2 separate regions of the Homo sapiens genome follow, and region 2 is linked to region 1. A link means that fine-mapping ties the variant in region 1 to the expression of a gene that starts in the linked region. Tissue or cell type: aorta. Region 1 holds a variant in brackets; the other region holds the start of a gene. All regions are shown on one strand. Distances are from middle to middle.

Evidence for each region. PIP is the estimated chance that this variant, and not a neighbour inherited with it, causes the effect.
Region 2: CALCRL starts here. The variant in region 1 is fine-mapped to the expression of CALCRL in aorta (GTEx, PIP above 0.99).

The regions. Positions count from the first base shown.
Region 1 is chr2:187,376,532-187,379,468 of GRCh38, reverse strand. CALCRL (calcitonin receptor like receptor) reads left to right here. Exons shown (of 15, transcript NM_005795.6): 8 at 438-529. All of the region lies in intron 2 of CALCRL-AS1 (CALCRL and TFPI antisense RNA 1), which reads right to left. Among named protein-coding and RNA genes, the nearest start is that of CALCRL, 70 kb to the left of the region's middle. The variant T/C (reference allele first, on the strand shown) is at 1,827.
Region 2 is chr2:187,446,848-187,449,784 of GRCh38, reverse strand. CALCRL (calcitonin receptor like receptor) reads left to right here and starts at 1,533. Exons shown (of 15, transcript NM_005795.6): 1 at 1,533-1,746. All of the region lies in intron 2 of CALCRL-AS1 (CALCRL and TFPI antisense RNA 1), which reads right to left.

The DNA.
Region 1 (2,937 bases):
TTTGTCAAAGGAAAAAGAAACTCAGTTTGAAAATAAACCTTTATCTGGCATTTACATCTGAACAAAACAAATCATCACGTAGCATTTGTTTGAAGGTGCACAAAATATAAAATACTAGTTTCATATAGTATATAATCTAGATCAATAAAAGTTTTGCCTCATAGATTTAATATTTGACTTCTAATTTTTTAAAAAATTATTAAAAAAATAAAAAGGCATACAACTTATAAATTTTGATAATTTCACTGGATAGATATTTTTCATTCCAGACACGTTCAAGTATTTATTGGTTTGTAAACTCATCATTGTAAGGCTATCAGATCACATATTTCTAAAAATATAGTTTATTCAACTGAATTTGAACTTCTGCATGTGTGGGATTACAGATACTTATAGTATTGATATGAACCAAATTTTTTTGTTTATACAAATTACAGACTGCACTAAATTTGTTTTACCTGACCATAATTGGACACGGATTGTCTATTGCATCACTGCTTATCTCGCTTGGCATATTCTTTTATTTCAAGTAAGTAAATTTAAAATATTTTAAGAAAATTACTAGATGTCTTGGGTGAATGCCCCATCATGTGCATATTTACATCATGTCTGACAAAATATACCAATATAGATGATTTATAATGTTTAAAATAAGTTGAAATAAGTTGATCTTAGCTTTGTAAAATATGTAGAGGAGACTGATGAAATATCTTAACCTGAATTTTACAAAATTAGTAGGCATATAAAAGTGAAGACATATAATAAGAAGGGAGTCCAAACTAATATATAAACCTAACTGTATTTGCTTTGGGAACTGTTAAATAGTATAGGCCTTCTTAATTGTGTGTTTAGCTTTTGGACAATTTTAATAACAGAATAAGTGTCCATTTTAGAAACCGGAATTTTGTGCAAATAATAGCAAAGGCATTTAACATATATCATCAAAAATATAATCTAAATACACTTTGTTTAGGGTTTTTCCTCGTTTGGCGGGTCATCATTAAAAAGGTTTAATTGTACTTTCAATTTTACTTGTAATTCACTCCATTTTGAGGAGGAAGAGTCAGCTCCAATTTTTTGAACAAAGCAATCAACAACCAATTTTAAATTTATAGAAAGTTAAATTCTAAGTCATGCATGCATTATTTTATCCCTTCACATGATTTTCATAACTTTGATCATCAGCATATATATAATCATAGAATTCAGCGTGACAAGAGTAAGTAGCTATGTTTCATTGTATCTTCATCGCATTGTAGTCATCTTCTGCTCCTTTTGCTCCTGTGGCTGCCACCGCCACTGCTGCTCCTTCTCTTTCTTCTTTCTTCTTCTCCTTCTCCTTCTTCTTGTTCTTCTTTTTCCTCCTCCTCCTCCTTCTCTTTCTTGTTTCTTCTTCTCCTTCTCCTTCTTCTTGTTCTTCTTTTTCCTCCTCCTCCTCCTCTTCTCTTATTCCTCTTCCTACCCCTCCTTCTTCCTCCAACTTCCTTCTTCTACTAATTTTAAACAAAGAAGATATATATACCTATAATTTTAATACCCTATTAAGCAATTTCTAACATTTTTCTAGTTTTATTTCATATTGTTTCTACAGTTTTAATTATAGTATTTAAAATATTTTAACTATTTTTATAACAGCATTTTATCATTAGCACTTTATATGTTACTGAACAGTTTTTAAACAATCATTTGAGCAGCTAAATAATTTTTCATTTAGTAGGTGTACAAAAGTTGTTATTATCAATTCTCTATTTTCGACCATTAACATTGCTTTCATTTTTTCAATTAAAAAACACTGCAATGGACATTTTTGACTATAACTTTTCCCA[T/C]AGTTTGTACTATTTTCTCAGGCTACATTCCCAGAGTCTTGGGATTTCTTGGTCAAAGGGTCTATATCTTTTTATGGCTCTTGAAACACATCATCTCAAAAATATTTCAAAATGAACATGTTCAAAACAAATTCATATTATCTACCTCCTCCTAACCCAAGCTGGTTTTCTTCCAGAGTGACCCATCTTTACAAATGACACTACCAGAAATCCAATCACATTGGCCAGAAATTTAAGAGTAATCTGTGATACATTTCTCTCATTTTTCTTCTCTGTCACTCTTTCCTTATAACCTGTGAACTTAACCTTTTGAAACCCTTCTAATCTATTCCATTTCCTGATCACTACTGCCATCACCAGCAGTCTTGTTCTATCTAGCCTCAGTAAATTCACTTTCTCTCTTCATTTAATTCTAACCAAGGCAGCCAGAATAGTAGTTTCAAATATTTAGATCAAATATTGACCTGATTTTGCCATTCTTTGCTTTAAAATTTTTAGATTTTCCATTGTAATTAATATAAAATCAAAATCATTAACTTGCCCTGCCTGTTCTCTTTGCCTCCTCCCTAGTCTAATTAAATGTATTTATCTTTTAGATTTAAATTTTAGCATCACTTCCTCAGTGAAATCTTCCCGAATTACTTACTGTAATATTTCCAGAATTGCAATTAACGATAGTAGACATAGGGTAAAATTTTAATTAACATTTGGAAGACCACTATCTCTGCAAATTAAAAACTAATACAGCTGAAAGTCTTCAGATTAAATGGTCTCTTTTTATTTTGCATGTCATAAGTTGAAATATCCGAGCACATTAAATTTTTGAAGAAGATAAAGTTGCAAAGTATAATAATTACATTTGCCTGTCAAAACCAGTGGCTACAGGGAAGGACAATGGTTTCTAGAATTCTAAGTCATACAGTCCCAAACAAGTTAGAATTTAGTAAAGATAAGTAAAGTCCTGCACCAATTTCCTAAAGTCAAATGCAAAATTATTTATGTTCCTTCATGTGAAAGAGTCTAAGATTTAATGGAAAATGCTTGCTGTGAACTAATTAGATAAGAGTAGGGCTGCCAAGTGAAAACAATGCTGCAAGCCAAATGATACCAA
Region 2 (2,937 bases), 70 kb before region 1:
AGTATCAGAACCGGTTCACCAGTGTAACTCAGTTTCTTACAAGTCTTTTCTATTAACCATAATTATAGAGATGAAAGTATATCTATTTTTTATATGTCTGTATTTTGTAATCAATATTGATCTCACTGGTCTTAAAATCAAAGATTGTATAAACATTTTCTTCCACTAATTCAGACAATAAAAATGTCAACATGAGCACCCTGCTTTAAAAACATGATATTCCTGAATTTATTTTGCCTTTACCTCCTTTGTCTGCCTACAAGGTGTATGGCACCTCATTTTATCCTGGAATTGCACTAACAATTTACTAAGAGTTGAATGATCCTCACCGTATCTTATCTATTTCAAAATGTTATGAAATTTGTCGATTCAAAGCCTTAGACATAAAATCTATCTCTTCTAGTTTATAGATGAGAAAATTTATGCCCTGATAAATTAAGTGACTTTTAGTGCTGTTTAGGTTATAGGGATTATAATTATTGCTTCATATCGAACATTTACCAAATTATAAAAATGATAAAAGCATTTTAAATTTACATTTTCCCCTGATCATATCCAATGATGTATTAAACATATTCAGGAAAAACTATGCTTTGAGATGAAATTTTGTCTAAGAAATAAAGTATCCTTTGTATTTATATTATTTTATAATATTATGTTTACAACATCTATATTTTCTTTAAGATTATATTGACTTACAAATATTGTGGTATAAATTATTTTATATTATAAATAACATAATTATACCAAATATTTTTAAATGTGTGCAATAATTTTAAAATTATGAATTATTCAAAAGGCTATTTTGTCAAATATATATACTTATATATTATAAAAGAAACACTCTATACACACACATACACAACCTGAATTTATAACACATACACTCATGTTCTTATGAAGAAGGTAAAGGAAAAAATAAAAGATTTAAAAACTGCAGGATAAAGTTTCTTGATCTAATTAACTGATTAGGAACTGCACTTAGGAACTGATGGAGGAACAGCACCCAATTAGCAGAGCTCCAAATTAAGAAGAGCCAAATCACAAAACCAGTTATGATGAATACAGTTAATTTTTTTTTCTGTGTTGTGCTATGAACACAGATTTGTTAGATTTTTTTTCCTGGATACTTTGTAAGCTATAATTCAACACACACACACACACACACACACACACACACACACACACGCCTAACTCCTTTGATTCTTTGAGCAGAATACTATATTCAGATTTCCTTCAAATCACAAGTAGCTTGTTTGGCAAGTTCTAACAGAACTCAGTCAAGGTGAAAGCCAGCCAGCTTTTTACTGGTAACAATGTATTCACACAGCCTATGATCTCTCTCTGTTCAGGCTGCTTCTTGCTCTTGTCTCACAATAAGAAAGGAGTGCTGCTTTCCTGGGGTATGCTATTTGAGAAAGAAAGTAACCTAACACTAACTGCAGGCGGGGTCAGAGTGATGTAACAGGAAGCTCTGATGTTTCCCTTCTGCTGCTGATCACTTACAATCTGACAACACTTACAATCTACTCAGAACAACCTCTCTCTCTCCAGCAGAGAGTGTCACCTCCTGCTTTAGGACCATCAAGCTCTGCTAACTGAATCTCATCCTAATTGCAGGATCACATTGCAAAGCTTTCACTCTTTCCCACCTTGCTTGTGGGTAAATCTCTTCTGCGGAATCTCAGAAAGTAAAGTTCCATCCTGAGAATATTTCACAAAGAATTTCCTTAAGAGCTGGACTGGGTAAGTGCACATTCAAAATAAATATATTTATTCTAAGTAGTATTCTCATATAGTTTGGCAATGTTTCTATTATAGAATTTAGTAGATAGCACTGAAATAATGTTGAAACATAGTCTCACTTATTTCACATGCTAGAGAAAATACAGCCTACTACCCCAACATGAATACAAAATCTAATACTACTAGATAATATTGTTTACCATGGTATTCTAGAAAATAAATTTAGCAAGTATTAAAAATCTAAATGGATTAAAAGACATATTTCTGAACAAATACCTTAATCACAGAACAATGTCTTTTAAAATTAGCTCTAATATTAGCTAAGCTTGAATCTTGACAACTGGAAAACATTTCTCCCCCCGGAAGGGTCTTTAAACTTTCCATGTTATCAGCTGTAAGAAAGAGGTGAAAGAATAACTACTTAATGGGTCTCGGAGTCTCACTTACTCTGTGGTTGATCATAATGCAGAGTTTTGAAAAGTAATCACTTTGTATTTATTACATTTGCTTTTATTTGCCTTTCACCTTTATTTACACATATATCTGTAACTACTGAACTAATTTTTGTGTTCATTGTTGCCAGATGTGTTTAAATCTCTCTTCTGCTAACCCTGAACTGTTTGCTCTTTATTTGGATCATGGTGTCGGCTACAAAGAAAAAAAAAAACCTAGAGTTTAGGAAATGTAGATTTTTAAAACAATTCTTAATTTTGAAATCTTTAAGAGAATACTTCAACTTGACTGGTTCCCCTCTGCAAGCTTTTGGAGGGGGGTGTGATACCACGATATCTGTGGATAAAGAAACGTGACAGCTTTCCCAAAGAAGTATATTAGACGATTAAACAAAGAAATTAAAGTATTTATTAAAAAAGAATTTCCAGGATGGAACTTACTGAAATGTTGGATAAAACATCTGTTAATGCTCATTCCGATAGTACAGACTGTCCTGAACAATTTAAGAAACTAATGTCTGCTTAATAAATTGTTTGTGTAGATATATCACAAATTTGTTGCTGGAGAAAGTTTGATGTCAAATTTTAAATGATGTTGATAGATATGATTTTTAAGTTATATATTTTCTTACCTAAATGCAATTATACTTTCCAAGATGTCCTGCATTGGAAGCATCCTGTACTTAATCACTTATATCTGGCACATTAATAATAGACTACAAACATCCTGAGTAACTCC